Homo sapiens: one gene and its partners. The protein of the gene in region 6 purifies or fractionates together with the protein of the main gene of each other region. This does not show direct contact. Each region holds a gene or a part of one and is shown on either strand. Other genes may lie near its edges.

Region 1 (3,500 bases), on a different chromosome or scaffold from region 6:
CAGGGTTACAAAGTTAGCTGATGCCAGAACTGGAACTTGCCTCCCACAGTTAGTGCTCTTTATACCAGCTTCTCATGCTCTTGTGTCGCTCCATCAAATGTTTGGCACGAATTCCCAATATACTAAAACTCTAACTCTGGGCTATTGATTAAAACAAACAAACAAACAAACAAAATGACTGAAACTAGCACAAGAAACTCAAGAAGACAGAAATTTTAAAAGTAAATAAATAGGACACTACAGAAACACATTGACTGTGACTTCTTTCACAAACAGTATCTTTTTCAACTGTGTATAGGTAAGTGATTATGGCAAGATTATTTCTGTAGTTTATTACAATTATTTTAGTGATTCAGAACTAAAAACCACTACTCCAGAATAACAAACCTGAGACTTATTAAGTTTATAACTTTCAACACAGAAATGAGCTCTGCTTTCCTATTTTTAAACTTATCACTAATGCCAGATCTTGTAATTGATTTAAACAAGTTTCAAGACAAAAACAAAATGGTTTGTTTCACTGTTATTGCTTTTCCCCATTAAATTTATGTGTTATGCAAATATTCTAACAAGATATTGCTCTACACAAATGATCTAAAGATTTTCAGCTTCATTAACAGGGTACATTGCTTACAAACCTCAATGAAAGAACAGTTAGTACTAGAACCCTTTATCAATCTATTATGCATTCAAAGTCTGTATGAAGTTTTAAGACATTTCCCAAAACAGAAGCTTTTGGTAAAAGCTAAGAAAACATTCTGATTAGTGTGGTAAATAGTATATCTTTCCTAATCTTTAAAAAACAAAATAAACTACTTTGGGAAAAGCTGACTTTTAAGCCACAACACTGAATATTTTCTTGCTCGGCAGACAGCAAAATTCCTCATGATTAAATCCTATGAGCCAGATTTTTCTCCCCCTCATCTTGCTATTATGTGGCATGGAGCATAATTTTACAAAGCATGCACTCCTTCACTTTGTCTATTGACATTCTGTCTTCAAAAACAAACTCTTAAACTCAGAATAGATTTTCCTCTGCTATTCAAAAGCAACTGTAATGAACACACCTTAAAACATCTGACAGTGGTAATAAAGAAAAATTGTATTTGTGTGTGCCCTGAACACCAACTACAAGAATCTCCCTCTTTCTCTGAAGTGGCTGTGTTTCAAGACATCATCATACATTAAACTACTTACTACGCAAAGGAGTAAGTTGATACGTAACACAAAATCAGATATTCTAAAATCCCTACTGTTCATAAGAACTATGGGGAAGTCAAAATCAGACCAACTGAATTTTATTCCTCACCCTGCTCCCAAACCACATGACCAGAGAAGGTAAGAGCTGGGACGTGAATAATAGTAAGGGAGAGATACGAATATTCACAAATAAATTATTTAACTTATCTGCTATCAAGTTCTTAGTGAACAAGAATAAGCCTGTAATCCCAGCACTCTGGGAGGCTGAAGTGGGCAGATCACAAGGTCAGGAGTTCAAGACCAGCCTGGCCAATATGGTGAAACCCCGACTCTACTAAAAATACAAAAATTAGCCGAGTGTGGTGGTGGCGCATGCCTGTAGTCCCAGCTACCCAGGAGGCTGAGGCAGAAGAATCGCTTGAGCCTGGGAGGTGGAGGTTGCAGTGAGCCGAGATTGCACCACTGCACTCCAGCCTGGGCAACAGAGCGAGAGACTGTCTCAAAAAATAAAAATAAAAATAAAAATAAACAAGAATAACACCCACTTCACAAGGTTGTTGCAAGAATCAAATGAGTTCTTCCATGAAAATGATTTGCCTGGTTAAAGGAACATAATAGGCACTCGATAAATGCCAGCTCCTTCCTCGTTTGGTTCTGGACTCGGTGTTATTTGTTCTCTACACTCATGCCCCCAGATGACTCAGTCTCCTCCTAACTTTTACTAACAAACACCGAAAACTACTGTACCAACCAAGGTCCTGATATGTATGTGCATGCCCAGTCTATGTGACACTGTCTCCCGTCCCTAAACACTTAGGTGAGCAAAACAGAGGAAGAAATCCCGAACCTCTGAACCTGAACTGCTGTAAGAACCAGCAGTTGGGGTGGACAAATCTCCACCCACTTCCCACTGTCTCCAAGAGATCTGAATTGCCATCTAAGAATGTCTGAAACCAAACTCATCATTGTCTCTTTTAAAAAGTAAGCCCTCTTCCTGCCCCTTTTCTAACTGTGAGTGGTGTCCAAAGAATAATCCTTGCCCCACTGTATTCTCACCAAAACACTGCCAAATAACCCAGGCCTATCACGTTTACCTTCATAATCTCTACCATCTCTCTCTCTCTCTTTTTTTTTTTTTTTTTTTGAGACAGCGTCTTGCTCTGTCATCTAGGCTGGAGTGCAGTGGCGCGATCTTGGCTCACTGCAACCTCCTCCTCCTCCCAGGTTCTAAGTGATTCTCCTGCCTCAGCCTCTGGAGTAGCTGGGATTACAGGCATGCGCCACCACATGCGGCTAATTTTGTATTTTTAGTACAGAAAGGGTTTCACCATGTTGGCCAGGTTGGTCTCCAACTCCTGACCTCAGGTGATCCACCTGCCTCAGCCTCCCAAAGTGCTGGGATTACAGGCATGAGCCACTGTGCCCGGCCCATATCTGATTTTTTGTCCCACTCCCACCACTATAGTCCAGGTTAGGGTTTCTCAGTCTCAGCACTATTGACATCTTGGGCACATAATGCTTGTGGAGGCTGTCCTGTGCACTGCAGGATGTTTAGCAACATTTCTGGCCTCTACCCACTAGATGCCAGTAGAACTGCTCTCTCCCCTCTAGTTATGACAATCAAAATGTCTCTAGACACTGCCAAATGCCTCTTCCCCATTGTCACCTTCATTCCCATGTTTGAGTACCACTGGCCCAGTTTCTCACTTCGTATCTGCCATACAAAATCAGCCCCCAAGTTAAGTCTACAGTTTTATTCCTCTAATTCCTGTGGCCCTGACAAACGACTCCTAAAGCACTGCTTTATGAGTCATTTCTCTTAAATCTACCACTCCCTGTTACCTACACAATTAGTTCAAAGCTCTCCATCCAACCTTGATAATCTGGCCTCAATTAAACATTATTCCACAAAGCACCTCATATAGTGGCTACCCAGCAGTCCTTCAATAACATATCCAGTCTCTCCCTTTCTATTCTACTGCTGTCACCCTGGTTGGATGTCCATGACCTAGCACCCAATCCAGACCACTGAAAGAGTGTCATTCCTTACCCTTTCTGCCACTCAAAGTCAAAAACTTTTCAATGGGTCTCCATTGCTTGCTGAAATATCGTTATCTGCTGCCCTTCTTCAGAGTCTTTCCCAATATGGCCTCTTTCTAATTTTATATTCTGTTATCCCGAAAACACTAGTCCTTGAAAAGGCTCCTACACTTTCCACTTCTGATCACTTTTCTCTGCCTGGAAGCCCTCATAATTCCATTCCCCTCACTCCACCCTAATTTAAAGTCCATCTGAATTAA
Region 2 (3,500 bases), on a different chromosome or scaffold from region 6:
TTCTAAACAAAGTAGAATTGATTCTTTGAATACTTATTTTCCAAGTAACTGCATGAGATCATGCATACTAGGCAAAATACTGTTAAATGAGGACTCTGAAATATTTCCTTAGAGTAATTTTAAAAAGGTGTTCTCATGCTCATCTGCTTGGATCCAGGATAGATTTTGACTATTTTAACCTCTCAGGGATCAACTTTTGAGACTTCTAGACTCAAAAGAATAGAATTTTCTCTTTTCCTATTTATACCTATTTACTTTTCATATCTTTTCAAAGACTCCTTTCAGTAGGAATTACATTTGTATATTTTGTAAGGTACATTTTGTAAATGTGATTTTGTATGCTCTAACAAGAGGATTTGCACTGGCTAATTTTCTGTCAGTTCACTACTCACATCAAAGATCTCAAAGCCAGCAATGTCCAAGACCCCGATGAAGTACTGCCTGGGCTGCTTGGTGTCCAGCTGCTGGTTGATGCGGGTGACCATCCACAGGAACATCTTCTCGTAGATGGCTTTGGCCAGAGCACCCACTGCATTGTACACCTTCAACAGAAGTGATAGTTTAGTTTTTTAAATTGAAAACAGTGATGAACTCCTGAGTCACTTGCGGTTCAAATAAATCAGACAATTTAAGTCATGTTTACCTGCTGCACAGTCTGGCCTTTGGTTACGAACTCATTGCCGACCTTGACTCTGGGATAGCAGAGAGATTTGAGCAGGTCAGCAGAGTTCAGACTTGTCAGATAAGCAGCTTTGTCAGCAACTGTGTGAACAAGGTGAGAATGGTGAAACTGACCATGGCTTACACAATTTAAAATGTAAATGATGATGACAAAGAAAAAAGGTTTCACTCAAAAAGTAAGATGTGCAAATGTCATTGAAACCTTTTCATTTGTTCATATTGCCTCAAAAGCATTGCCACCACTTGCACTAATTTTAGTCATTTCTTGTGATGATAAATTGGAGGTTGGGGAATCGATGCTGTCTGTGATATTTAACCTGGCAAAAGTAGACCACAGATAAAAATAATTTGAGAAACCCTAACCTAGAGGAGTAGTGACAGAAATATTCAGATCTCTGTTTCTTTCAGTGCCTGTGGGCACACAGATTATCCTGAAATAAAATATGTTTTAGTCAAATAGCAAATATGAGCTTATGAAAAGCCAATGAATAATGGAATGAGCAGAAATCACAAATCTGCTAAATAATGTAAAACGTCAGGCAGTGTGTAATTTCCTTCTCGTAATACTTTTGCCCTTCACGAGCTAGGTCAGAGAAAGTAAAAACACGGTCCCTGCCTCTGAAAAGTTCACTATGTCAGCTTTGTCAAGTGGAAGATACCAACAGGGGGTGGTACCTTCCGTGCCATCTGGCTCTGCCTGCTCTTCCCTTTGCTTTTGCTTGAATTTCATGTTCCCATAATGCATCACGGCTCCAGTGAGCTTGTAAATGGCCACCTTTTCATCAGCAGTGAAACCCAGGATGTCCACAGCACTCTGTCAAAAGAGTTGAATTTGCTCATCCCCAATTAGCACCATGGAAGAATCCCTCAGAACACCGGGGCTGTCTCCCACTTTTTTCTCATCACGCCTTGCCTTATATTTGACTAGCACTTTGCCATCTTCAAAAGGTACTCATATGCTTTACCTTTTGATCCACATGGCAACACGAAGAGGTATGCATCAGTCTTTCCATTTGAGTCATGAGTCCATTTGGTCACAGCATATGATGTGACTTGTCCACACTCACTGAACCAGGACTAAGAGCCATGACTTTTGATGCCAAGGCCAGTGCTTTGCCCCTTTTCTCCACCCCAGCCCCCCTTTGCTTCTCAGGCACATGCTCCTCTTGGTCTTTTGGCTATTTTTGTTTCTTTTCTCCAGTCTCACGAGTCTCTCTGTTGCTCCTTCTTCTCCTATTTGTCCTATCCTAATGCATAATCCCAGTCTACCTTCCCCTGCTAATGGGCATGAGTGATAAAGTTGGAAAGAGGGTATGAGGAGAACAGCAATGGTTGTGAGTCTTTCTCCACATGCCTCTCTGATAGCAAGCCACAGCTCAGCGACCACGAGATGCCTGGGGTAGCAAACTTTACCTAGTTATTTATTTCTCATGCAGAGAAGAGACATTTATGAAAAGAAGGAATTTTGCCATTTAGTATAATATTTCTGTGTCTTTTTTCTCTATCGAATTTTGATTACCTTTTTAGTTGCCCACATAGGCTTTGAAAAGGCTTATAAATGGGGGCAGGATTCAGAGCAGGCAGAGGAAAATATGTTTATTTACCATTCTTACCTAAGACTCTTTCCCCAGATTATTGACTTCCACTTCCAGCTCACTAACTCTACCTATTTACAGAAACTAGACATTATTACGGAAGTCTTAGAGCAAGACTGCTACATTTTTTTAACCTCGCAGACCAGGGTGTGTTTCTTAACTCCCTATCACTTTTGGACATACAAAGATAATAATAAGTTATAGAGAGTTAAAGCTGATATTTATAATATAAAGCCACACAAATGAATTATTGACTTCTTGAAAATAATATTTTAATAGAAAAAGCAGTTTTGCAAGCACTGTCAACTCTAACTTGGGGGTATTGGGATAGTCCCACTGATATTAAAGTTAAAAATAAGGAAGATTATTCAGAAATCAAAAGAAAGCATGAAATATACATAAAGTTTACATATAAAGAAAGTAAGCCAAAAAGCAATAATCCTTAAAAAAGAGGTGATGGTGGGGAGAGAGTGCGTTGTTTCAAAAATAAATATAAAGGCTTATGGAGTCCCCAAAATGAGTGTTTTTGAAGTAGACAACCCACTTCTTCTAATGCTGCTTAGGGAGTAGAGAGGGATATATCATTGGCCCACAGAGGTTTATTCAAAATAAGGCTTATGTTTACATGTGACTGTAGAAGAACAGTGGGAGTTCCATGTTTAGTTGTAATAATATTGCAGCTCCTTCCCAGAATCTTGGGTGTGAGGTGTGGCATAAAATAGCAGAGAAACATTAATATTGGAGCATAAATATCAACCAAAAATGACTAATAAGAAAGATAGAATGAAAGGAGCCTACTAGCTAAGGAATACTAAAGACCCAACATTTATTACAGGCAGTGAAAGCTTTTTAACACATGTAGGGGGAGGGTATTGAAATATCCTACAATTTTTTTCCAAAAGTAAGAAAGCCCAAAGGGTTGTATTACCTATTTATAGTCTTTCTGCCACTGCTTTCCACCCTAATAGAGGAGAGTGTTGTACACTGGAAAATGAATTTACTTTTTACTACTTTGTACCTATTACTTACATCTGTGGCCATCAGCTCTTCCTGGTCATCAATGCTGGGCACAGTAATTTCCCCTTGGCTGACAAATGCGAAGTCATATGGGTTGGTGGTGATCAGAAGCATTTCTGAACACATGGAAAAGAACAGTATATAGACAGCATTGCTTTGGTCATCAAAAACATTTCAGAGAGGCTTCTTAGAAGGGCTGTTATTCTT
Region 3 (4,062 bases), on a different chromosome or scaffold from region 6:
TAGAGAAAGATCCCAGGAGAGAAAGAAGAGAAAGGAAAACCTCTGCATGCACTCAATCTGAGTAATGCCAGTCCCCAGAGTGTTGGAATTGAACCAAGGATGTTGGGACGAGGTTAGAGTGTAACCCTGCCTAGACACAAACAGAAGACACTCTTGGCTCCTGGGGTGGACATGGATGGAGCAAGAACAGAGATCCCAACGTAGGGCCAGGTGCAGCACTCACGTAGATCATCCAGGAGCCGTAGCGATCCTTGAGGTTGTAGAGCACCGCGGGCTCATGCAGGAAGGTCAGCATGGCCATGTCCTCGATTTTGTCGAACTTGGGTGGGTTCTGCTGCATCACCTGGTCCTCCTTCACGGTCACTGTCTGCAAGAGCCCCCACCCAAGCCCTCCTGTCAGCCTGGGCTTTCCCTCCTTCCTCAAGAGGGTTAGGAGTTGGTGAGTGACAGGGCAATAGTGCTCAAGAGAGAAGGAACCAGGATCTCACAGGGAAGACAGAAGGGATATTGGGAAGGAGAGGGCTCTTTGGAGGGTCTGGATTCTTCCCCAAAGGGAAGGAGAATGGGACCATCCTCAGGTCTGCATGGGCATGGGGCATGGGTGTACCCCTCTCTGTCCACCCAGGTGTACAGGTGGCCAGGGTGGACTCTCACATCAGCCTGACACCCACCTTGCCATACTCGGTCTCGGCAGTGACTTTGCCACCCTCTCGAGACACGATCTTGGCCTTGACAAACTCCTGTTTGTCATCAGGCACGAAGACATCCTTCTTGAGGTCAAAAGGCCTGGTCTGCGCTTCTAGCCGCTCCTTCTCTGACTTGCGCAGGTAGGGGGCGGCAGCCCCAAAGACTGCCATCTCCGAATCTCCCATGGCTGTGCCTGGAGTGAGCAGAAGCTGGCTGCCCTCCCATCTGCCCATTCTTCCCTTCCCTCCCTGGGCTCTCCCCTTCAGTGGGAGCCCCAAAACCTAGCACCATGCTCAAGAGTCAAGAGGAGTTACCAGTGAGTCCCTTCCTCTTTGAGGTTACCCCTTAACCAGAGGAGCAGCCTAGCAAACCTGCCAGGGTAAAAGGAACAACTAACTATTGTTCAAGCTGGGGCTCTCCTAGGGGAAGGAAGAGCATTCTGAGCTCCCTGTAGGAGCAGAAATCTAACTATTTCCATCTCTGACCCTCATCTATCCCTGGACCCCCTGGTCACAGGTAAGTAGCTCTTGATAGCCAAGATATTCTCTCCAGCACATGGCAGAAACTAGAGTTCCATAGGCTGGCTTTGGGGCTCTAATGCCCAGTCTTACTAGATTTTCAACACTCTAGCTTCAGCTTTTCTTACCTGGGCTACTCAAGTGTGTCTACAGATGAGGAAAGGGGCCAAGGCCTGCAGGGGACCTGGAGAGAGGGAAGAGGCTGTGTCAGGGCAGGCTGTGCCCAACCTGACCAGTCCCACCTTCCTGCTTCTCCCTGGCTCTGTTCTTCAGCATCCACCCTCTTCCAAAACAAGGTGGAAAGGGTGGTCAGCTTCTCTGGTCCCATCCTTCTTGTTTTTCAAACCCTATTCCCTTTTTCCTCAAGAACTAGTTCTAACAGCTTCCTGGTGTCAACTCAACCTGAACCCTAATCCTCTTCACTCCTGCGAGATGGTCCCACCCCTGCCTGTACCCATCTAGTGGTACCTTTCTTTGAGCCATCTGAGAGACAACTAATGGTCACATTTGTTCGGCACTTTCCAGTCTAAAAGCACTTCAATGCACTTTCTCCTACTCAGTCTTCACCCCATTTGACAGATGAGGAAATCGAGGTTAAATGGCTTGCTTGGCCAAGAGCCCATGACAACAAGTGGGAGAGCCAAGACTTGAATGCAAGTCTGATGACTCTAAAGAGACTTCTTTTCCATCCTGTCCCCATTTTGTTGTCAGACTTTGTGGACATTCTCAGAGAGAAGACACTGTGGGCTTCCTCTCACAGACACACCCATCACATAGCCAAACACCCTCCACAAGCCCTCTGATGAACACTCATGCCTGCTGCTTGGGCATGCCTCTCACATGAAGACAGGCTTCCTTCCCATACCTCAATCCGCACCCCAACCCCAGGGTGCCATATATGCCTCAACAGCAAATGTGCACATTTCAGGATGTGTGCCACGTAAGTAGATCACATCACTGCGTGTTCTTCAGTACACAAAGACCTGGAACATCCTACACCCCCGTGCCTGTGAGTTCCTTCTGCAGAGGGTACAGATACTATAACAGTCATGACTCGTGGAGGCATAGACAAGAACCTCTGCATGCATGGACAGGGGTAGCTACACATTCCAGGCCTCACAGAATCACATGAAGGCATACACACTTCCTAGAATCCTTCTCCACCATTCTTTCTCCCTCCCTGCAAAGGAACCTCCTCGTTCACAGACGTGATCATACACCCACATCTCCCACTTGATATTTCTGTATCAGTCAGTGAGGTACATACCCTTTCTCACATTCAGACTATGCAGGCTTGTCCACACACACACACACACACACACACACACACACACCCTGTAATGCATATTGGTCCCATATGCTCAGATGCAGATATCTTCCCCTAGGAACTCCTGTGGCACATACGCCCATGTTTAGACCTGCACATGTGTGCCCAGTGACTGGACCTGGTACTCTGCATGAAGTCCTGCATGAAGCTTGCTATTCCAAGAGGAATCCCTTCCTAAGCCTGGAGCCCCCTTATCCCAGAGTAAAGCCTCCAGCTCCCGCTCCTACCTGAGAGCAGCAGGGAAAGACACAGAGCAGGACAGAGCTGTGGAGCCAGACCTGGTCTCAGGGGCTGTATATATGGGGCAGCAGGGCACCCCCACCCCCAACGGCACCCAGTCCCTAGCCGGATTTAGAAAGGGCTGTTGTCACTAGAAGCATTTCCCCCAGGCTCCCCCCCTTCCCAAACAGTGCTCCCCTCCCCGCCTCTCCAGCTAGGAAACAATTGGAAGTGGTCGTCATTGTTATGGCATGGACTGTGCAGGGTCTGAGTTCCAGGGGGCGGGGTGGCTCAAAGTGCAGCAAAAATATCTCCCAGGCCAGGCCTCACATTCCACAGCTGGCAGGAGAGGGAACTGACCACGACCACCAAGACCACAGGCAGCCAATGTCCTGGCTCTCCCGCAGGGCACTTCTGGCCCTGGACACTGCTCCCCCTCCAGTCCCCTGCTGCGAGGCCCCTGATGGCCTGGCCGCATTTCCACAGTGTCCTCCCTGCTCTCCTGGCCCAGGTCCTGTATCCAACTGGAAGCTGGGAAGGGGCTGAGTGTCAGCAGCAGAGAAGGGTAGGACAGAGTTGGGGGCATGGCCCCAGGGTGAGGCAGCTAGACTGGGGCAGCTGGAAGGACATTTCCTAGCCAGGTGGCAAGAACAATAACCATGGAGCTTAGAGATGGGGACTCTGGCTCAGGCACTGATTTCCTTGGACCAGCAGGCAATGTGTTGAGGTCACCAAGCCTCCGAGCCAGACAGGCCTTTAGCAATCCATCCAAGCACTTCATTTAATGGAGAGGGACAGTGCATTCTTTAAGGTTATACAGCTAATCGGGGCAGCAGGATTCAAGGTGGGAAACCTCAGCAGATGGGAGTGGAGCCCGGCCTGTGGAGGGTAGCCTGGAAAGGTGGGCTGGGATTCCAAAGATGTGGGGACCCCCTATGCGCAGAGAGCAGGACCCAGCTGCATTGGTCCTAGTTTGGAGCGGTTTGCCTGACTCACGTTCCTGGCTCTGCCCCACAGGTACTAAAGGCCTGAGCCCAGAGACAGACCCTCTCAGAGCTATAGATAATACAACTACTTGGAGCTGGAAGGAGACCCCTAAGACAGCTGTTGTCTGGCCCACCCAGCCTCAGCTTTATCCAGAGCTGGAGGCGACTAGTGTTCTGGCAAGTGAGGCAGAGTAACAGGACAGGAAAAATCTTCCCCTCTGCAGGCCTGAGGAACAGCCACAAAGGAGGGGAGGAAAGGGAGCTGGGGCCCAGCCTACGAGCACAGAACACAACCGATGCCATGCTCTTCTAGCAACGGGGCATG
Region 4 (3,500 bases), on a different chromosome or scaffold from region 6:
ATGCTCATGGGTAGGAAGAATCAATATCGTGAAAATGGCCATACTGCCCAAGGTAATTTATAGATTCAATGCCATCCCCATCAAGCTACCAATGACTTTCTTCACAGAATTGGAAAAAACTACTTTAAAGTTCATATGGAACCAAAAAAGAGCCCACATCGCCAAGTCAATCCTAAGCCAAAAGAACAAAGCTGGAGACATCACACTACCTGACTTCAAACTATACTACAAGGCTACAGTAACCAAAACAGTATGGTACTGGTACCAAAACAGACATATAGATCAATGGAACAGAACAGAGCCCTCAGAAATAACACCGCATATCTACAACTATCTGATCTTTGACAAACCTGAGAAAAACAAGCAATGGGGAAAGGATTCCCTATTTAATAAATGGTGCTGGGAAAACTGGCTAGCCATATGTAAAAAGCTGAAACTGGATCCCTTCCTTACACCTTATACAAAAATCAATTCAAGATGGATTAAAGACTTAAACGTTAGACCTAAAACCATAAAAACCCTAGAAGAAAACCTAGGCATTACCATTCAGGACATAGGCATGGGCAAGGACTTCATGTCTAAAACACCAAAAGCAATGGCAACAAAAGACAAAATTGACAAATGGGATCTAATTAAACTAAAGAGCTTCTGCACAGCAAAAGAAACTACCATCAGAGTGAACAGGCAACCCACAAAATGGGAGAAAATTTTTGCAACCTACTCATCTGACAAAGAGCTAATATCCAGAATCTACAATGAACTCAAACAAATTTATAAGAAAAAAACAAACAACCCCATCAAAAAGTGGGCGAAGGACATGAACAGACACTTCTCAAAAGAAGACATTTATGCAGCCAAAAAACACATGAAAAAATGCTCACCATCACTGGCCATCAGAGAAATGCAAATCAAAACCACAATGAGACACCATCTCACACCAGTTAGAATGGCAATCATTAAAAAGTCAGGAAACAACAGGTGCTGGAGAGGATGTGGAGAAATAGGAACACTTTTATACTGTTGGTGGGACTGTAAACTAGTTCAACCATTGTGGAAGTCAGTGTGGCGATTCCTCAGGGATCTAGAACTAGAAATACCATTTGACCCAGCCCTCCCATTACTGGGTATATACCCAAAGGACTATTAAATCATGCTGCTATAAAGACACATGCACACGTATGTTTATTGTGGCACTATTCACAATAGCAAAGACTTGGAACCAACCCAAATGTCCAACAATGATAGACTGGATTAAGAAAATGTGGCACATATACACCATGGAATACTATGCAGCCATAAAAAATGATGAGTTCATGTCCTTTGTAGGGACGTGGATGAAATTGGAAATCATCATTCTCAGTAAACTATCGCAAGAACAAAAAACCAAACACTGCATATTCTCACTCATAGGTGGGAATTGAACAACGAGAACATATGGACACAGGAAGGGGAACATCACACTCTGGGGACTGTTGTGGGGTGGGAGGAGGGGGGAGGGATAGCATTGGGAGATATACCTGATGCTAGATCATGAGTTAGTGGGTGCAGCGCACCAGCATGGCACATGTATACATATGTAACTAACCTGCACATTGTGCACATGTACCCTAAAACTTAAAGTATAATAATTAAAAAAAAAAAAAAAAAAGAGTGTGAAACGGCCTTCATGAGGCTTAATTGTGGCTTAACCTGGCACCACCCCTCACAAGGTCAAAGCTATACATCAGCTCCTGTGACATTGACTCATCCCCCAGACCTTATCTAAAACAACGGAGCAAACACATGCTAGGAAGGGCACCCGGGAAATGGAAGGCATTGTTCTATCTCCTCACCTGATTCCATATCTCTGTATTCTGCCCCAAAATGCCTCCACTGGAAGCCATAAACTGGGCCCAAGTCCCCTTCTTCTCTGGTGGAGAATCCCAGGCTGTCCAAAAAGTCTCGGGATCCATTGGCATCCCAGATTTTCACTCCCTTGGAAGACAGCTCTTTAGCATTTGTGGATCCCTGGAAGAGATGGGGAGAGCAGAGCAGGCATCCAGGTAAATCCTAAGCCATCTCAGTTGATCCCCCCGAGACACCACTTACAAGGGCCTCTGGCCCCTGCTGACTTGCTAGGAGGTGGGCACTTGACACCACCCATATGGAACCCATCCTTTTTTTTGTTTTTTGAGAGTTTCGCTCTTGTTGCCCAGGCTGGAGTGCAATGGCGCGATCGTGGCTCACGGCACCCTCCACCTCCCAGGTTCAAGCGATTCCCCTGCCTCAGCCTCCCGAGTAGCTGGGATTACAGGCATGCGCCACTACACCCAGCTAATTTTGTATTTTTAGTAGAGACAGTGTTTCTCCATGTTGGTCAGGCTGGCCTCGAACTCCTGACCTCAGGTGATCCGCCCACTTCGGCCTCCCGAAGTGCTGGGATTACAGGCGTGAGCCACCACACCCAGCTGCCCATCCTATCTTTAAGTAGGCTGGTCCCAGCCCAGATTCCTGAGGGCTTTAGGACAGTCTGATCCCTTCTTTGGAACCACCCTCCCAGATCTTTTCTTCCATTCCCCTCAACTAAGCTTTTTAGGCTAAACACCTCCAAGTGCTTTTAAGTATTCCACCGATCTGACAGTTTTATGTTTCTTAATGAAATGTGTTGTCTATATGTAATACCCCAAAATGAATTTAATGCCTACATGCAATCTGTTCAATGTATCTTCTACCTGGCATACAGGATATTCCTAATGATCAGACTAATCAGTATTTTACAGTGCAGGTGCCTCAACTCCTGTATTTGATCGAGTCACCAATGGAGTAACTCCAACTATCAAGGTGAGTCTGACATTCCTGGCAAGGATTCCTTAGAATCCTGAATTGAAGCATTAAGTTGAAACAGGGGAATGCATTTTATTTCTGAGTATCTTGCTTCCTCCCTTTCTATTGTTGAGTTTGTCCCGATTTTCTTTGATTGAGAAAGAATCAAAGAAATTTCCAACAAATCAAAGAAATTTCTCCAATTGAGAAATTTCCAACAAATCATTTCTCAATCTTTTACATATTGCTTCAAAAGTCTCTCCTTTTCATCCATTCAGACCAGGCTCTAGCCAGTTTAAGAATGTTGTCTTCTGAGGTTTCTGATGATATGTTTCAAATCCAAGGTTCATTGTTAGTCAAGATAGGCCAATACAGAACAAAATACCCCAAGAATACAGAGCTAAGGCAGACCTGGGGCTGGATCCAAATTGAAGCCCTTTCTAAAATGGGATAAGAGGGCTTGGGTCTGGCTTGCCCCAAGACCATACAAGCCATACCAAGTGCTCTATAGAAGGGATCCCAGCTTCTAGTATGGCCCAGACCTGAGCCCAGACCTCAGCCACCTTCCAAAAAGCACTGGTCAGAAAGAACATCGCTGGTTCTAGACCAGGACACGGAACACAGAGAAGCTTGGTCTGGGCTGCTGCCTGTCTTCACAGCACTCTGGCCCCGGCCTGAGGTACCTACTCAGCCCTCTG
Region 5 (2,258 bases), on a different chromosome or scaffold from region 6:
GCACTTTCACATATCTTGGGAGCTTTATTCTCATAATTCTCACAAGGGAATAACCTGAGCATCAGCTGTGTGGAGTGACCTACACCTTGACCATGATTCTGGGGGATGATGAATGAAAATGCAAAGTATAAATCTATACTCCTTAGGAAAATGCCTCTACTACAACACAAAGGAATCTCTCCATTTCTATCCTATTGAACCCCCAATTGAATCCTGTATCTTTTCTCTGAGCTACAATCTTGAAAGAAGAAAGTCACTGTGCTGTGTTATAAGAATGTAAATATTTTATGCTGTCAGTTGTTTCCTCAGAATTTATAAGTCAAAGGGTCTACATCAGTGTCAGAATCATTTAAAATTATTCAGTGTATTGAAAAGCAAGTAAAACTCTAGGTATTTCATGTTTACATCTGAAGGAGACATTAGTTCATCCTCTACCCCTTTTCTAAATGATGAAACTCATGAGGTCTAGCAGAGACCAAGGACTAATACAATCAAGAAGCATATTGTGTACACCTCAACAGATTTTCATTAAAAAAAATTGTTTGATACAAACCTACTGTAGTTCATGAATTTACTATGTGTAATCATCAACTCTTCACTTTTAAAAGAAAGTATCACTTGAATCTATTTTGTAAAGTTTTTAAACATCTACTTGAGCATTTGCATTAGCAGTATTAATCAACCTGAGAATCAGAAAAAAAAAAAAAGGTGCAAACATATTTGCCTTTGGCACGAGGACAAGTAATTGGTGCAGTCCAGCTCTAAATAATAATGTAATGCTTGGTCTGCCTCTGCTACATTGTGATTCACATATTGCTTCCCTATCCACAAATCTATATTTGATTTAGCATATAAAAGAAGGGAAAAAGCAATAAAAAGACAAATATGTGGTTTAGTTACATATACTTTGCTTCTTTCCAAGTTCAGAACTGTGAAAATAGGCAAATAGCTTATCCCATTGGGGCACTATAAGAGATTCCTAATAAAATTACTCGTAAAATATACTTTGAGATCGAAGAGAGTTAATTTAAAATATAAAAATCAAAGAGAGTGCCAGTTGATGAGTTTCTACTCCTTTCTGTAAATAGCATTAACTGTTCTAGAAACTTCCAAATGTTAATCTGATAGCGCAGCACAATTATATCTTAAAATAGTCATAGACACAGGAAGCACAGATACTATATTCACATTAATTCACATATGTAATCTCTATCATTAAATGATTTCTATAAAACCTCAAGTTTCTAATTAGGATTTGTGGTGTAAAAAAAGGCAAATTGGTAGCTGGGTTCTTTTCAGTAAAGACACAATCAACTAGCAGAATTAAGATGCTAGTCCACCTTATATGCATTTTAGGATCTGGTATATTAGTGCAGAGGTACTTGCAGCAGGATGCATGAATCCTGCCTTTATATAAGGCTTTGTGGGTGTCACCATTCTGTGCACTTTATTAAAACTACTCCACCCCCCAAAACCTAATAAAAATAATTGTTGCTTATGACTTGGGGAATATTTGGTGAAGTTGCTAATAAAGTACATTGTTAAATGCAACATGATTTCACATTGTAAATGTCTTGAAAATTCAGTTTCCGCTACATATTTTCTTCATAAAATAAAATTTTTATACAACCCTTGTCCTCCAATTTTTCCAATAATCTGCTTTATTAGGGCCATCACAATAAAAGTTTGGGGCAAGAAGCCATGCATAAAGTGTTTCTAAAGTAGTGAATGTTTTCTGTTCTGTATCTTTTTTTCTTCTTATAATTTCTTTACAAATGTCAGATATTTCTCTTCATATTTTTGTTCTAGGCTTCTGTGCGACGATAGTCCATTTTTTTAATTTGTTTTAACTGACAAAAATTATATATATTTATCATGTATAACATTGTTTTGGAATATGTAAGTTGTGGAATAGTTAAATTGAGCTAATTACACATTATTTCATATGCTTATCATTAGATATTCCATTTTAATGGCACTTGTTTTTAAAAATGAAACAGAGTTTTAGGCACAATAGTCAGTTACTTCTGGCTCTGCTTTGTGGAGAAAGGTGTATGGACTGAAATCTCTGCACTCTCCAGATAATAACTTTCTAATGCTTTAAGATAACTAGATTGTTTTTAACTGTCTGGAAATTAAAAGAGACCTTAAAAAAAATTCACAAGTGTAACTAGTGTATGTAGAAATAACCCTAATTTTAGGGATATGCACATAAAAATGACATTCTGATATCAAAAATAACAGTTTCACTGTCCCTT
Region 6 (3,500 bases):
CACAGTGATGTTATCAGCCAGCACCATGCCTGGGAGATCACCAGGGCAGGAGAGGTATAAAATGCTCCAGGGGCAAGGTTCTGAGAAGATGCCCTGCCACTGTATGAGGCCACAACCTGCTGTGTATAACCTCATCTAAGCACAGAGAAGCACCAGGTGAACCCAAGTGGAAAGTAGTCTATTAAAAAGGGGTTAGGGGCCCTCTGCATCCCTCCAAAATGTCAATGTCATCAAAAATTTTAAAAGACTCTGGAAACGTTCCAGATTTAAGAAGGCTAAAGAAACATCACAGCCAGAGGCTGGGTCCAGTCTGGGAGTGGAAAAAATGCTGTGAGGATATTGACTCAAGTGACAAAACTGGAATAAATGGTTAGAGTACGGTATCAATATTGATAACTACAATTATGTTAGAGAGTCCCATATTCTTGGGAAATATACACTGAAGTATTTAGGGATAAAGGAGTATGATGAACTTATTGGCAAAACAGCCATCGTACTTGTATATAATATTTACGTAACTATGTGTTTTACACAGGAAGACTGAGCTTGGGAAATGATAAAGCAAACTGTGGACTTGAATGAAAGACATACAGGTATTCTTTGTATATTTTATAGTTAGCTTCTGAGTCTGAAATTATTTCCCAAATAAAAAGTTAAAAACAAATCTCTACTGAACAATGTACATCTTCCAAGAGATTTCCTTGTAGCTAAACTACTGATAAGCTTAGGTTCATAAAAGTCTATCTAGCATCCAGTGACTAAGGTCAATACCTGGTTATAGTGAGTTTCACAATATGCCAGGCCTTTCCTCTCATAATGGCGATGTCCAAGAAAGGGTTTCTCACACTTGGCACAAACAAAATGCTGAAAAAAAATTGCTATAGGTCATTTTTGAATTGCCATATTTTATATCTAATAAAGTAAATACCAGAGTTAACCTATTTTCAGAGAAGATGAAGGAAAGTTTGAGACAGTCATTTCATTTGGCCATAGGTGGCCCCATAATATAATACTTCTGCAGTTGTAATTCAGGTGTCTGTCTTTGAAGGTTACTTTAAGACATAGCCTATTATAATAGCCCAAAAAGAGAATAGAGGTGAGCATCTCAGTAGCACCTATAAAGGAGGAGCTGCTGCTGGATACAGACCATGGCACTTCCTGCTTCAAGAAGGCTTTAGGAGCAAAAGTACACATCCTGTATCATTACTGAGACATTCACAAAAGCAGTGTACATTATATATTCTTAGCTGTCAGCAAAGTCAATTGTCTTTAAAATGTCCACGTTTAATCTTTAGAGTCTCCTAATCTTGCCAGGACACCTGAATCATGAAGATTTGAAAGTACTGGTTACCCCTGAATCATGGGAGATCTGAAAGTATTGGTTACCCCTTAATCATGGAGATTTGAAAGGATTGGTTACCCTTTGCCATTTAGAACTCACCTCCACATGCCACTGCTTGCCCATAGCGTTCACCACGCGCCCTTCGATGGGCCGTCGGCAAGCACCACAGATGGGGACCCCCATTTTATCATGGCATGGGAGGCAGTATAGCTCCCCTTTCAGCTCCCGTGCATCGGCAGTCAGCTCCTTCCTGTCCGTGAGAAAGACACACAGCTTAATACTAAGAGAGAAAAGTGGCCAACCAATGGGGCTAGCACACTTTTTAGAAGGTTTTTAAAGACATTACTATGACAATCCCTGCAAATTTCTTTTTTCCCCTTTAGAGGTGATCAGAATAACCTGAATTAATAGGCCTGAACAGGTTTCAGACTCCTACCAAAACATCTGTATCTTAAAAGGATAAGATGCAAGACTAGGTCAGATACATACCACCACACCAGTCATATTCATAATTTCCTTCTTATATTATCACATTACATTTTAGTCCATTTGTCTTCCTCTAAAAGCTACAGGGAATAATCACAGTGCTGAGGGTAGACTCAGTAATACTATCTGCTATGGTGTGACTGTGTCCCCAAAGTTCATGATCCCCAATTCTGAGGTGTTGAGAGGTAGGACCTCTAAGGGGTGATTACATCATGAAGGCTCTGCCCTCACAGATGGATTAACGCTGTTACTGAGGGGGTGGGTTCCTTATAAAAGGACGAGTTCAGCCTCCTTCCTTCTCTTCCTTCCCCCCTCCTCTTCCCCCACCATGTGATGCCCTCTGCTATGTAATGATGCAGAAGAAGGTCCTCACCAGATGCCAGCCCCTTGATCTTGGACTTCCCAGCCTCCAGAACCATGAGCCAAATAAACTTCTGTTGGTTACAAATTACCCAGTTTGTGGTATTCTGTTACAGGCGCATAAAATAGACTAACACACGACCTTTCCAAGCAAACTGAGAAGTTGGGAGACTAGTTCCATTTACTAACAATTATTTAAATTGTCACAAGCTGTTGAAAATAGTTATAGGTTAATAGGTTTATTTTCATAAACAACAAAATGCCCAGAATTTTCCTTCTCCAAATACTCAAATTAAATATTATTTTCAGTCTCCTGCATCAATAAACATTTGGTCAGAGATGGTCCCAATTAGTCAAACGGACTTGTTTGAATTTCATCCCTTTTATGTAATTCTCTAGGAGAGATGCTAATGAAAAGTGGACAGAGGTGAATCCCCAAGAGGAAGGACAGGCAAGAAAACGAGATAAGGCACAAACTGATAATTCAATCACAAAAGATGAGATGGCTGAACTTATACAACCAAACTGTTTTCTTTCTTTCTCTTTTTTTTTTTTTTTTTTTGAGACGAGTCTTGCTTTGCTGCCCAGGCTGGAGTGCAGTGGCGCGATCCACACTCACTGCAAGCTCCACCTCCCAGGTTCATGCCATTCTCCTGCCTCAGCCTCCCGAGTAGCTGGGACTACAGGCACCCACCACCACGCCTGGCTAATTTTTTTATTCTTAGTAGAGATGGGGTTTCACCATGTTAGCCAGGATGGTCTCGATCTCCTGACCTCGTGATCCACCCGCCTCGGCCTCCCAAAGTGCTGGGATTACAGGCGTGTGCCACTGCACCTGGCCCAAACTGTTTTCTTAGTATTTGGCTTACTGTTTCTTCTCCATCCCTACTATAATTTAGCAAGTAAGTTCACATTAACTACAGTAAAGAATATTTTTTTATTTTTATTTTTTGAGATGGAGTCACGCTCTGTCTCCCAGGTTCGAGTGCAGTGGTGCGATCTCAGCTCACTGCAACCTCCGCCTTCCGGGTTCCTGCCATTCTCCTGCCTCAGCCTTCCAAGTAGCTGGGACTATAGGCACCCGCCACCGTGCCCGGCTAATTTTTTTTGTATTTTTTAGTAGAGACGGGGTTTCACCGTGTTAGCCAGGATGGTCTTGATCTCCTGACCTCGTGATCTGCCCGCCTCGGCCTCCCAAAGTGCTGGGATTACAGGTGTGAGCCACCACGCCCGGCCAAGAATCTTTATCCACTAAATTTTTATACTAGGCAGCAAACTGAGAAAAATTCATAGCCCAACAATTTATCATAAC
Region 7 (3,426 bases), on a different chromosome or scaffold from region 6:
TTCTTCTCATCTTCAAATGCTCTGGCAGGGAAGATGATATTCAGAGGTATCTTTAACTCCCCATCAAGTCTTACCATTTTGCTCATATTTTAAAATAGCTCCTACCCTCAGGCAGAAATCATGCTTAGGATTGCTCTTTTACATTACCTTCAATGAGAAGGAGATGGGGAGAGAGAGGGAGGGAGTGAGCACATGCACGCTACAAGTCTAGGCAGGAAGGGAGAGGAAAAAGTGTTCCTGGGTGTATGGTCTGTGAGTCAGACTGGTTCCAAGTACTATCATTGCTTAGTACCTTAAAGTAAACGGCATGGCATCAAAACGCCTTTCCACCTCACTGAAGAAGGCACGTGAAGTTTTCATTTTCAGTCCATACTGTTTAGAGGGGTCTCGTTTGTAAATAGTGGTTCTCTGTCCTGCATCCTTGGCCTGAAAGAGTAATTTAAGTAACATTTGGTCTGGTGAACACTCTCAGTCACCCCTCTTTGCCAACTCTGGTACTCTCCTCACCTTGCCCTCTCCTGAGCTGACGAGAACATCCACAGCATATACTTCATGTACCTCAAATTCAGCTTTTTCATGGTCCTTCCTAAAAGGAATAGAGAGAAAGGAATTTTTTTTTTTTTTTGACACAGAGTCTCATTCTGTCACCCAGGCTGGAGTGCAGTGGCACAATCTCAGCTCACTGCAACCTCCACCTCCCGGGTCCAAGCAACTCTCCTGCCTCAGCCTCCCAAGTAGCTGGGACTATAGGCACAAACCACCAGGCCTGGCTCATTTTTGTAGTTTTTAGTAGAGACAGGGTTTCGCCATGTTGGTTAGGCTGGTTCTGAACTCGTGACCTCAGGTGATCCACCCGCCTCAGCCTCCCAAAGTGCTGGGATTACAGGCGTGAGCCACCGCGCCCGGCCTAGAGAAAGGGAATATTAAGAGCAACAGGTCACTCCTGAAAACATGGAGTAGAGGGCGGACAAGATTCAGTTGGGAGTATAGAAAAAAACCTGATGACTAGTCTTGTGTGGTAGAAGGTAATAAGTAGGGTTGGCACCTACTTCTGCTGGTCTGTGGGATTCTGGATAATGGTTTTTTCTCCATCGATGACATGCTGCTTCAACTGGTGTGACAGCATACCTGTAGATAGTACACAACCTATGGAACAAGCTATCCAGTATCCCAAAAGGTTTCCAAATCCACCCACTTCAGTAGTTTGAAGTGGTAGGCAGTGAGACAACTACCTGGTTATGGAAACACAGGGCTCTGAGATTTCTGGCTTAGACTGGGTTATAGCCAGGATAGATCTTCAAGGGAGCAAAAGCCTCAATTCTGCAAAGCCACTCATTCTTTTTTTTTTTTTTTTTGAGATGGAGGAGATGGAGTTTCGCTCTTATTGCCCAGACTGGAGTGCAGTGGCGCAATCTTGGCTCACTGCAACCTCCTCCTCCCGGGTTCAAGCGATTATCTCGCCTTAGCCTCCCAAGTAGCTGGGATTACAGGCACCCACCACCACGCCCAGCTAATTTTTATATTTTTAGTAGAGACGGGGTTTCACCATGTTGGCCAGGCTAGTCTCAAACTCCTGACCTCAGGTGATCCGCCCACCTCAGCCTCCCAAAGTTCTGGGATTACAGGCGTGAGCCACCGCACCTGGCAAAGCCACTCATTCTTAGACCCTCAACCCTGTTATCTGTTCTCACCTTCTATTGGCGTGCAGTTAAATGAGTGGGCAACTTTGTTCCAGGCTTCTGTCACTTGTGTGTTCTAGAAGTACAACATCAAATGAAAGGTGAGATATCAGGAGCTAATAAGTTCTCTACAATGAGAATAAGAAGCATAAAAGAACTGAGCGTTTTTTTTTTTTTTTTTGAGATGGAGTCTGGCTTTGTCACCAGGCTGGAGTGCAGTGGCGTGATCTTGGCTCACTGCAATCTCTGCCTCCCGGGTTCAAGCTATTCTCCTGCCTCAGCCTCCTGAGTAGCTGGGATTACAGGCACGCAACACCACGCCCAGCTAATTTTTGTATTTTTAGAAGAGACGGGGTTTCACCATGTTGGCCAGGATGGTCTCGATCTCCTGACCTCGTGATCTGCCCACCTCAGCCTCCCAAAGTGCTGGGATTACAGGCATGAGCCATTGCACCTGGCAGAACTGAGCGTTCTAATATCCTCCATCAAGCCCCAATGATTGTCATTCACTGGTTTTTCATTTCATAGCTTGATTATCCCTACAATCTAAAAATACTTTATACAGATGCTCCCCAACTTGCAATGGGGTTACATCTCCAAAAAACTCATAAGTTGAAAATATCACTAAGTCAAAAATGCATTTAATACCCCTAACCTACCTAACATCACAGCCTAGCCTATGTTAAATGTGCTCAGAGCACTTAAAAAACATTATCCTACAGTTGGGCAGAATTATCTAACACATGCCTATTTTATATTAGTGTTGAATATCTCATGTAATTTACTAAATACTATATGGAAAATGAAAAACAGAATGGTTGTATGGGTACTCAAAGTATAGCTTCTACTGAATGTAGCATCAAGCTGAGGACCAGCTGTAACTGCATATCATTTTACCCAGTGCTTTCACAAAGATGGTCTAACTCAATAAATTTTGCATGTGAACAGGGCAGATGTATATCCCAATCTAGAAGACAAGGAAACTGAGTCTCAGGTTAAATGATTTGCCCCAGGTTAAATGAGTGTTAAGTGAAAGAACTTGGTCATAAACCTGGGTTTTCTTTTTTCTTTTTGTAGACGGGTCTCGCTATGTTTCCCAAGCTGGTCTCAAATGCCTGGGTTCAAGCAATCCTCCCACCTTGGCCTCCCAAAGTGCTGGGATTACAGGCATGTGCCACCACATGCCTATAATATTAAGTCCAGTGTTTATCCTTTTTTACCTGGCATTCTAATCTGTTTTGTGGGGACAGCAAATGCTTATTTTTCCTTTTTCTTTTGTGAGACAGGGTTTCATTGTTGCCCAGGCTGGAGTGCAGTGGCATGATCATAGCTCAGCACAGCCTCAATCTCCCAGGCTCAGGTGATTCTCCCACCTCAGCCTCCCTGGAAGCTGGGAATACAGGCACATGTTACCACGCCCAGCTAATTTTTGTATTTTTTGTAGAAATGGGGTTTCACCATGTTTCCCAGGCTGGTCTTGAACTCCCAGCCTCAAGCTATCCTCCTACCTTGGCCCCCCAAAGTGATGGGATTACAGATGTGAGTCACTGTGCCCAGCTAAATATAGCTAATTTTAAAAAGCTGTTTTATAAGGGGTCTGTAGGGGAGGTTGGTAGTTTCATATAGAGTAGCTATAGGTGCCTAATGCATCTTTGGTTCAAACGAGCTTTGGAATTGGATAAAATAGCTTACCTGATTTCCAGGTTTGACCAGGCGTAGGGCAGCTTCAGCACAAAGGTGAGCTGCC

Evidence for each region.
Region 1: the proteins of LIMS1 (region 6) and REPS1 purify together in Homo sapiens (affinity purification with mass spectrometry, with the first as the bait; one large-scale study listed by BioGRID). This does not show direct contact.
Region 2: the proteins of LIMS1 (region 6) and MYH4 purify together in Homo sapiens (affinity purification with mass spectrometry; 2 studies listed by BioGRID and IntAct, with this or other methods). This does not show direct contact.
Region 3: the proteins of LIMS1 (region 6) and MYH7 purify together in Homo sapiens (affinity purification with mass spectrometry; 2 studies listed by BioGRID and IntAct, with this or other methods). This does not show direct contact.
Region 4: the proteins of LIMS1 (region 6) and TYMS purify together in Homo sapiens (affinity purification with mass spectrometry; 3 studies listed by BioGRID and IntAct, with this or other methods). This does not show direct contact.
Region 5: the proteins of LIMS1 (region 6) and BMP2K purify together in Homo sapiens (affinity purification with mass spectrometry; 2 studies listed by BioGRID and IntAct, with this or other methods). This does not show direct contact.
Region 7: the proteins of LIMS1 (region 6) and PA2G4 fractionate together in Homo sapiens (co-fractionation; one large-scale study listed by BioGRID). This does not show direct contact.

Annotation. Positions count from the first base shown.
Region 1 is NC_000006.12:138,981,754-138,985,253, forward strand, and holds part of REPS1 (ralBP1-associated Eps domain-containing protein 1), read right to left. Parts: intron 1-3,500. UniProt on the Homo sapiens protein: May coordinate the cellular actions of activated EGF receptors and Ral-GTPases.
Region 2 is NC_000017.11:10,459,560-10,463,059, forward strand, and holds part of MYH4 (myosin-4), read right to left. Parts: intron 3,410-3,500; coding exon 3,306-3,409; intron 1,496-3,305; coding exon 1,357-1,495; intron 763-1,356; coding exon 644-762; intron 543-643; coding exon 393-542; intron 1-392. UniProt on the Homo sapiens protein: Muscle contraction.
Region 3 is NC_000014.9:23,432,861-23,436,922, forward strand, and holds the start of MYH7 (myosin-7), read right to left. Parts: upstream 2,801-4,062; 5' UTR 2,760-2,800; intron 1,390-2,759; 5' UTR 1,334-1,389; intron 881-1,333; 5' UTR 873-880; coding exon 672-872; intron 368-671; coding exon 224-367; intron 1-223. UniProt on the Homo sapiens protein: Myosins are actin-based motor molecules with ATPase activity essential for muscle contraction. Forms regular bipolar thick filaments that, together with actin thin filaments, constitute the fundamental contractile unit of skeletal and cardiac muscle.
Region 4 is NC_000018.10:660,653-664,152, reverse strand, and holds part of TYMS (thymidylate synthase), read right to left. Parts: intron 2,008-3,500; coding exon 1,833-2,007; intron 1,168-1,832; exon of another isoform or gene 1,148-1,167; coding exon of another isoform or gene 1-1,147. Other genes in the region: ENOSF1 (mitochondrial enolase superfamily member 1), read left to right, coding at 1-1,147. UniProt on the Homo sapiens protein: Catalyzes the reductive methylation of 2'-deoxyuridine 5'-monophosphate (dUMP) to thymidine 5'-monophosphate (dTMP), using the cosubstrate, 5,10- methylenetetrahydrofolate (CH2H4folate) as a 1-carbon donor and reductant and contributes to the de novo mitochondrial thymidylate biosynthesis pathway.
Region 5 is NC_000004.12:78,912,350-78,914,607, reverse strand, and holds part of BMP2K (BMP-2-inducible protein kinase), read right to left. Parts: 3' UTR 1-2,258. UniProt on the Homo sapiens protein: May be involved in osteoblast differentiation.
Region 6 is NC_000002.12:108,673,970-108,677,469, reverse strand, and holds part of LIMS1 (LIM and senescent cell antigen-like-containing domain protein 1), read right to left. Parts: intron 1,593-3,500; coding exon 1,442-1,592; intron 865-1,441; coding exon 772-864; intron 676-771; exon of another isoform or gene 540-675; intron 157-539; exon of another isoform or gene 1-156. UniProt on the Homo sapiens protein: Within the IPP (ILK-PINCH-PARVIN) complex, binds to F-actin, promoting F-actin bundling, a process required to generate force for actin cytoskeleton reorganization and subsequent dynamic cell adhesion events such as cell spreading and migration.
Region 7 is NC_000012.12:56,107,559-56,110,984, reverse strand, and holds part of PA2G4 (proliferation-associated protein 2G4), read right to left. Parts: coding exon 3,372-3,426; intron 1,756-3,371; coding exon 1,692-1,755; intron 1,129-1,691; coding exon 1,050-1,128; intron 587-1,049; coding exon 508-586; intron 427-507; coding exon 293-426; intron 22-292; coding exon 1-21. UniProt on the Homo sapiens protein: May play a role in a ERBB3-regulated signal transduction pathway. Seems be involved in growth regulation. Acts a corepressor of the androgen receptor (AR) and is regulated by the ERBB3 ligand neuregulin-1/heregulin (HRG).